2 separate regions of the Homo sapiens genome follow, and region 1 is linked to region 2. A link means that fine-mapping ties the variant in region 2 to the expression of a gene that starts in the linked region. Tissue or cell type: monocytes after R848. Region 2 holds a variant in brackets; the other region holds the start of a gene. All regions are shown on one strand. Distances are from middle to middle.

What was found. PIP is the estimated chance that this variant, and not a neighbour inherited with it, causes the effect. A credible set is the group of variants that fine-mapping cannot tell apart.
Region 1: it holds the start of WAC, and the variant in region 2 is the best candidate, but not a certain one, in a credible set for the expression of WAC in monocytes after R848 (Quach 2016, PIP 0.50).

Annotation. Positions count from the first base shown.
Region 1 is chr10:28,531,474-28,535,704 of GRCh38, forward strand. WAC (WW domain containing adaptor with coiled-coil) reads left to right here and starts at 1,645. Exons shown (of 14, transcript NM_016628.5): 1 at 1,645-2,147; 2 at 2,525-2,561; 3 at 4,089-4,231. The coding sequence starts at 2,107. WAC-AS1 (WAC antisense RNA 1) reads right to left here and starts at 881. Exons shown (of 3, transcript NR_033805.1): 1 at 262-881. RefSeq lists silencers at 899-1,318, 1,689-1,838, 2,049-2,128, 2,279-2,388, 2,399-2,648 and enhancers at 1,045-1,728, 1,349-1,538.
Region 2 is chr10:28,401,040-28,405,270 of GRCh38, forward strand. No RefSeq gene overlaps it. Among named protein-coding and RNA genes, the nearest start is that of LINC02652, 93 kb to the right of the region's middle. The variant C/A (reference allele first, on the strand shown) is at 1,901.

The DNA of each region.
Region 1 (4,231 bases), 130 kb after region 2:
TTATTTTTTGGAGGGGGTTGTTTCTTCTGACTTGTTTACTATTTGCCTCTTCTGTGTTAATCACCTAATTATGTTTACCACAATTCTTTTCATTAAACTATGTTGCCTTACAAATAGTGCAAAAAAAAAAAAAAAAGTCAACCAATCACCCGAATACCACCACTCTCAACTAACGGTTGTTTGGTATACTTCACGTTTCTTCTCTCAATGTACCTGCAGCAGTACATAAAATCAAATTTGTAGCAATTTCACTTAACACACCTGAGAACTTTCACATGAATTTTCTTTCACCAATGGACTTCAGCGAGGAAGAAACAGAGGAGGGAAAAGTGAGAGATAAAGAGAGGGTGGGCAGGGCACCGCTGGGTATGGAAAACGTTAGAAAGGGATGGAAAACGTTAGAAAGGGGTGAAAAGCCGAGCGCAGTGGCTCACGCCTGTAATCCCAGCACTTTGGGAGGCCGAGGCGGGAGGATCGCTTCAGGCCAGGGGTTCGAGACCAGCCTGGGTAACACAGCGAGACCCTATCTCCGGAAAAACTTTTTTTAAAAAATTAGCCGGGTGTGGTGGTGCATGCCCGTGGTGCCAGCTACTTAGAGGGCTGAGGTGGGATGACCCGTAAGCCCCGGAGGTCGAGGCTGCAGTGAGCCGTGATCGCGTCACTGCACTCAGACTGGACGACAGCGCGAGACCTGTCTCAAAAAAAAATAACAAGGGGTAGGGTGGGGCAGTGAGATGGTTCAGCGTTGTTCCCAAGGAACTCATCTCCCTAAATTTCCAGTCTCAAGCGCCGCTTTCATTCCCTGCCCCGAGCGGCGCTCCCCGCTCCGTGCACGCATCTCCGCTGAGGGCCGCCCTGACGCACGGCCTTCTGCCTTGAACACAGAACCCCTCAGCCCTTCCTATTAGCCGTTTCTGGCCGGGACTGCACGCGCTCCTTCCTGCCTCGGGGCGCAGGGTGAGACTTACGTCTAAAGGGCGCCCGGCGAGCTCGCAGCAGCCCCTGCCCCGCGGAGGGCCGGTGGCGCGCGGCGTCCGGTGAGGGGCAGCGGCCCGGGCTCGGTTCCGGCTTCCAGCAGCGGCCCGAAGGCGCCGGAGCACGCTCCCCGCTCCCCAGAACGCAGCTTCCGCGGCTGCAGCCCAGGCAGCTCTTCGGGAAGCGTCCGCCCGTGGTCTCGCCAGGGGGTTTCCGACCTCCCCGCCCGACAGCGCAGGGGCGGGGGCCGCGGCCGGAGAGCTCGCCCGAGAGCACCCCCTCCCGCTGCGCCTCTGGGCGCACGCGCAGCCGCTGCAGCCTCCCTTATTTAGTCCGCGATGGCTTCCCTCGCGCCCCACCGTCCTCTTCCGGAAGGCGGCTCCCTCCCTGCGCAGCCCGGAGCCCCTGAGATCAGCCTCGAGCAGGCGCCCGAGCGAGACTATCCCTAAACGGGAACGGCGGTGGCCGACTCGCGAGTGAGGAAAAGAAGGAAAGGGCAGACTGGTCGCGAAGAGAAGATCCAGGCCTCAGAGGAGGAGAAAGGCCGGAGCCAGCCGAGGTTTGCCGAGGGCGGTGTTCCGGACCCGCGCGGTGCGGGGAGGAAGGCCGAGGGTGGGAGAGGAGGGGCCCGGCGGAAACTGCCGAGGTTTCCCGAAGGCGGCAGCGTCCGAGTTGCCCGGATGTAGTTGGTGGAGCGGCAGCGGCGGCACCAGCGGCGGCGGCGGCGGCGGGAGGAGGAGGAGGAGAAGAAGGACCAGGCGGCGGCAGCAGCGGCGGCGGCGGGGGGAGGAGGGGAGGAGGCGGCGGAGCAGGAGGAGGAGAAGGCGGAGGAGGCAGTCGCTCTCCGCGGGGCTGAGCCGGACGCGTCGTCTTGCCCCCCTCCCCCCGGTTCGCGGTGCCGCCGTGTAGTTGGCGCCGCTGCCCCGGCTGAGAGTGAGCGTGGTGTCGACGGAGGGAGATGGCCCGGGAGCGCCGGCGCCAGTAACTGGGAGCTGATGAGAGTCGCCGAGGGCGCGCCGGGCCCAGGTGCCGGGGCTGCCCGCCGCCCGCCGCCGCCGCCGCCTGCGCGCCCGCCCGCCTTTCGCGGCCGCTCTCCCCCCTCCCCGACACACACTCACAGGCCGGGCATTGATGGTAATGTATGCGAGGAAACAGCAGAGACTCAGTGATGGGTAAATTGTCTTTTCGTTTCGGGCCGGGCGGCGGCGGGGGGCGGCGGCGGGGGGGCTGTTCCTCCTTATCTGGAGCTGGCCGGGCCGCCATTTTTGTTGTTAACCCTGATCCGGATCGGGTTGGGGAGGAGGAGCGGCCGCGCGGGCGGGCGGGCGGGAACGCAGTGTGGCGGGGAGCGGGGGCCCGGCTTCGCGGCATTTCGCCCTCTCCGGCCCTTCCGGAGGCTCCGGGTTTGTGCCGTGTGCGTGCGGGGCTCGGCGCTGGGGCGCTCGGTAGGTCTCCCGCGGGGAGGGGCGGCGGGGGCCCCGTTTTCTTCCTCCCCGGCCCCCCACCCGCGCCGTGTCTTATGTCGCTGCCTTCTCTTCCTGTTTTTCAGCTGTCACGACCGGAGGGGGGACTCGCAGCCTTACCAGGTACCAGCCGAGGCCGGGGTGGAGGGATTGGAAGGGGCCGGAGGGGGAAGGGAGGGACTGCTACTCGAGCGCAGGCCTCAGAAGTCGATACAGGCCCTTCGGTGCAACACATCTGAAACTAGCACCGCGGATCCCCTTAAAATTCCAGGTTTGGTTCCTTTAGCGCTCTCCAGCAAGGTTTAGTGACTTATTTTGACAGGTGACTGGAGGGAGTTCGCTGATTTAGGAAAAAAGAATCATTTGCAGCCAGAAAGACCTGACTCGATTATTTGATTATTTGCGAGTGAAGGAATCGATGGGATGAGATGATAGGTGACTTACGAGGCTTATTTATTTATTTATTGTGTTGGGGGAACTGAAAAGTTAATGTAAAGGTATTAAAATTAAGTGAAGAACTTGGGTAAATAGCTAAATGACTTACAACTTTCAAGTCGGTTATAAAGTACTACCCTTTCCCCTTTTAATATTTTTGGTATACTTAATTGCCTTACAAGTAAAAGATATGTGTGCTTTTGTTTCTGTAAGAATTGAGGTCTTTGGGTACTTGGATAATCATTCTGATGTAGGTGGTTCTAGGTAGGTGGGTTCCTTTTTGTTACTGCAGTCATTGTGTGTGAAGTTCTAAGGATTATGATGAAAGTGGCCCCAATTTTCAGGAGGGAAACCTCATAATGATTGTTAACCATCAGATGACTGCAGAAAACACTTTCTACATCTTAAAGGACTAGAGAGCAGGTTTCTAACCTGATGGTTGTGTTATACAGCTGAATTTGAAAACACTGTCTTCTGATATGTAAAACATTGGATATGTCAAAAATTAAACTTTACTGAATCTGTCCTCCAAAGCATAGCTGATTACACATTGCAACAGATTAGTACATCATGATTGTCTTAAGATATGTGTTAGAATAAAGCTAAACGATTATTTTGAGCGCATTATGCTTAGTTAGAAATAGTACTCACATTAGTTTATTTTGGTTAGTATTTTTATACCTTAAAATTGTTTCCCACACCTGGGAGAGTAAGGAAGTTAGGTCTGAAATGCTTTATTTGAATCAAAGAATTGGAGAAACTGGTGTGTGGGTTTTTTTTTTTTTTTTTGGTAGGTTTGCAAAAATATGCATGTGCTTATTTATACATGTGTTTGTGTATATCAGCTGTAGAGCAGAAATTGATTATAGTAGTACTGAATTTCTAGTTTTCTTTTGACTATCAAAAAATGATTCTAAATATTCTCAGCCAAATTTTTTTATTTTTTGCAGAATCAGTGTGCAAGGTGGTTTATAAGATAATGGAGTGGGTTTTTTTTGTGTTTAGTGTGATTTGTTATCAGGAGTCTTATTGTAACGCTTAAGCATTAGGTTTTTTGTCTGAGAAACTTTAAAGAGTAAAGCAGAATTGAAAGTGGAAATTTTAATTTTGTAAGTTCATAAAATTTAATGATAATACACCAAAGTTTATGTTTAAATTAGGGAGTTTAAGGTTTCAATTCTTTCTCTCTTTTTTTGGGGGGGTGATGTTTTACAGGCACTTAAGTATTCATCGAAGAGTCACCCCAGTAGCGGTGATCACAGACATGAAAAGATGCGAGACGCCGGAGATCCTTCACCACCAAATAAAATGTTGCGGAGATCTGATAGTCCTGAAAACAAATACAGTGACAGCACAGG
Region 2 (4,231 bases):
GCCTAAATGGGTCCACTGGCTAAAACCAAAGTGTTGGCAAGGCTGTGCATCCCTGGAGGCTTTAGGGGAGAATGCATTTCTTGCCTTTTCCAGCTTCTAGAGCTGCACTCCTTGGCTGATGGCCCCTTCCTCCATCTCCAAGGCCAGCATCTGCAAATCTCCCTCTGTTCCAGCTCCACATCATCTTCTCCTCTTCTGTGGAGTCTGAGTTCTGTCTCCCTCTCATAAGAACACTTCTGCTTGTATTTAGTGTCCACCCAGGTAATCCAGGATCATCTCCCCATTTCAAGCACTTCACAGCTGCAAAGTCTCTTTTGCTATATACGGTAACATTCACAGATTCCAGAGATTGAGACCTGGATTTTTGGGGGACCATCAGTCAGCCTTTCCAGGAGGTAACATGAGGGAGACAGGCACAGCATTTCTGACAGGAGGGAAAGCATAAGAGGGCACAGTGGCATGACTCAGTACAGAGCATCCAGAATCTGTGTCGCTTAGAGTTGTGGGAGCATCAGGTATGAGGCGGTGGGGATGAACCAGGCTGCAGAGGGTGTCATGCTCCATGCTAAATCATCTGGGTTTTATTTCATAGGTTCCAAGGAGTCTTGGAAGGTTTGTAAGCAGGGCAGTGATGTGGTCAGCTGAGTGGTTTAGAGGGATCATTGTGGGGGATTCAGGCAGGCAGATACCACTGACAGATCATGAGAGTCAGAACCAGGATGGGGATTAAGGTGAGAAATGTGTTAAATAACAAAAGAAGTTCTCCAGGTGAAATTAACAGGAATCATCACTAATTGGATGGTAGGGTGAAGGGGAGAGAGAAATCTGGGATGATCCCAAGCTTTTTTCCTGGGTAGATAGTGTCCCATTAAATGTAATAAGTACAGGAGAAAAAAAAAATATGCTCAAGGAAGGAAAAACTGGCATTTAGTTTGAGTCTGTAGAATTTGAAGATTACTTGTGGGCAGGATTGGCTTCGTGGGTGTGTGACTTGTGCAGGCACACAGGGCCCCACACTTAGGAGAGGCCCCCAACTTAGCTAATGCTCTGCTATCACCATCTTGAAAGTCTTAGTAGTTTTTGAATAAAGGGCACCATATTTTTATTGTTCACCTGGTCCCACAAATTATCAAGTAGTTTCTGCCTGTGAGTGATCTAAGAATCCAGGCAAGAGCCTCGGTCTTCAGAGGAAGTTTTCAGCAGAGGTTCCCTTAAGCAGACATGAGGACTAAGCACCTCCTGGATAGACTATTAACTCTCTCCTGGGCTGCAGCAGCTCAGAGCTTTCTCAATTAACCACTTCAAGTGCAACAGTATGTGCCATAAGAGAAAGCCGCATATCCCGAATTAAAGGGCTCTTGATCAAAATTTAATAAACAAAAAAGGCCTTGATTTGGGCTTTTTTCCCAGCAGCCTCAGCTCTGATGTGAACAAAAGTTAAATACCTGAGTCTGAGGGCTTTTTATGTGAGTAACTTTGGTGTGCAGAGGAGCTAATTCTTACAGAACTTGTTAATTTCCCTAGACTGAATACTAACACCTCCCAAGATGACAGGAGAACAGAAATTCACATTCAGAGGTGAAGAGCGCTAGATTTATCTTGATGTGAAACTGGAAAGTTCCTAGAATAAGGGGAAGAGGTACTTTTTCTGTTCCCTACTGTATTAGTTCATTCTCACGCTGCTAATAAAGACATATCCAAGACTGGGTCATTTATAAAGGAAAGAGGTTTAATTGACTCACAGTTCAGCATAGCTGGGGAGGCCTCAGGAAATTTACAGTCATGGCAGAAGGGGAAGCAAACACGTCTTTCTTCATATGGTTGCAGCAAGGAGAAGTGTAGAGAAAAGGGGAGGAAAGCCCCTTTTCAAACCATCAGATCTCCTGAGAACTCACTATCA[C/A]GAGAACAGCACGGGGGTAACCACCTGCATGATTCAATTACCTCCCACCGGGGGGATTATGGGAACTACAATTCAAGATGAGATTCAGGTGGAGACGCAGCCAAACCAAATCAGCTACTCCACCCTAGGTTGCTGGCTCCTCAGCCCTCCTTACTCTTACAGCAGTTGGTAAACTAAGTTTGCCTTTCTTTGCAAAGTCAGGCTTTCTGGCATTCTCAGAGTAAGTCCTAGCAGATGAGCACCCCTGCTTTAAAAGGGCAATGATGGGCCTGACACAGTGGCCCATGCCTGGAATCCCAGTGCTTTGCAAGGCTGAAGTGGGAGGATCACTTCATCCCAGGAGTGGGAGGCTGCAGTGAGCTGTGATTGGGCTGCTGCCCAAGAGACAGCTAATAGTCTAACCAGGAGATGCTGAGTCCATGTTTCTGCTTAAGGGAAAACTTTCTTTGAAGACCAGGGCTCTTAGCTGCACGCCAGCCTGGCAATAGAATGAGAACCTGTATCTAGGAGGAAAAAAAAAAAAGAAAGCGAAAGAAAAAGGTTGATGCCTAAGTATCCAGCCCCATTTCTGCTTTACTTTGATATTAAAATACATTTCAGGGCCGGGGGCAGTGGTTCATCCCTGTAATCCCAGTAGTTTGGGAGGCCGAGGTGGGCGGATCACCTGAGGTCAGGAGTTTGAGACCAGCCTGGCCAATAGGGCAAAACCCTGTCTATACTAAAAATACAAAAATTAGCTGCGCATGGTGGTGCGTGCCTGTAATCCCAGCTATTCAGGAGGCTGAGGCCGAAGAATCGCTTGAACCCGGGAGGCAGAGGTTGCAGTGAGCTGAGATCAAGCCACTGCACTCTAGCCTGGGAAACAGAGCAAGACTCCGTCTCAAAATAAATAAATAAATTAATTAATTAATTTAATTAAATACATTTCAGACTCTTTTCCAGCTTTGAAATTATGGGCTCATGGTTTTGGTTCTGATCCAGCCTTAATTAATTTTCTGGACTTGATCTTCTGCCTTCTGCACGTGCTCCAGCCAGCCCCACTGGATGCTCCAGTTTGCAGTTTGAGTGAGATGATGCCAAGGGATGGAAACATAAGGGACCCATGAGACCACAGAATGTTCTTGTGGCCACCGAGCTTCAGGTCCCACTCTAGCCTTCCAGGTCCAGAAATGCTACAGAGTGAACTCAAACTCAAAATTCACAGATACATAAAACAGAAAGAGAATTTACCGAAACAGTAGAGAGAGAGAGAAAGAAACAAATTATTTTCTAAACACTGGGATTCTGGCCTCATCTGACTTCTTCTGGATATCAGGATACGTAGGACACTAAACTATTTTTTAGAAAGTTGCTTAGGGCCGGGCAGGGTGGCTCACACCTATAATCCCTTGGGAGGCCAACGTGGGCAGTCACTTGAGGCCAGAAGTTTGAGACCAGCCTGGCCCACATGGTGAAACTCCATCTCAACTAAAAATACAAACATTAACCAGGCGTAGTGGTGTGTGCCTGTAATCCCAGCTACTCTGGAGGTTGAAGTAGGAAAATCTCTTGAACCTGGGAGGCAGAGGTGGCAGTGAGCCAAGATCATGCCACTGCACTCCAGCCTGGGCTACAGAGCGAGACTCTGTCTAAAACAAAAAACAAACAACAACAACAAAAAAAAACAGTTGCTTAGAAATCTGGACGTGGTGGCTCATACCTGTAATCCCAGCACTTTGGGAGGTGAGGCAGGAGGATTGCTTGAGCCCAGGAGCTTGAGATCAGCCTGGGCGATATAGTGAGACTTTGTCTCTACAAATAATTATTTTTTAAAAATTAGCCAGGTGTGGTGGCTCACACCTGTGATCCCAGCTACTGTGGAGGCTGAGGTGGGAGGATCACCTTAGTCCAAGAGGCAGAGGTTGCAGTAAGCCAAGATCGTGCCACTGCACTCCAGCCTGGGTGACAAAGTGAGAGCTTGAAGAAAAAAAAAAAAGAAGGAAGGCGGGGGGGTGGGGCGGGGGGAGAGAGAGAGAGAGGAAAGAAAGAGAAAGAAAAGAAAGAAAGAGAGAGAAAGAGAAAGAAAGAACAAGAAAGGAAGAAAAGGAAGGAAGAAGAAAGAAAAAGAAAAGAAAGAAAGAAAGAAAGAAAGAAAGAAAGAAAGAAAGAAAGAGAGAAAGAAAGAAAGAAAAAAAGAAAAGAGAAAGTTGCTTAGAGCAACATGAGATAGTATTTTCTTAAGGGATATTTTATCCAGGCATGGTGACGCTAAAGATTTACTTTTAACCATATGAGAGTAACTAAAATATGGGCATCTGTCAGATTCAAGAACTTTCTTCCGTGAACAATTAG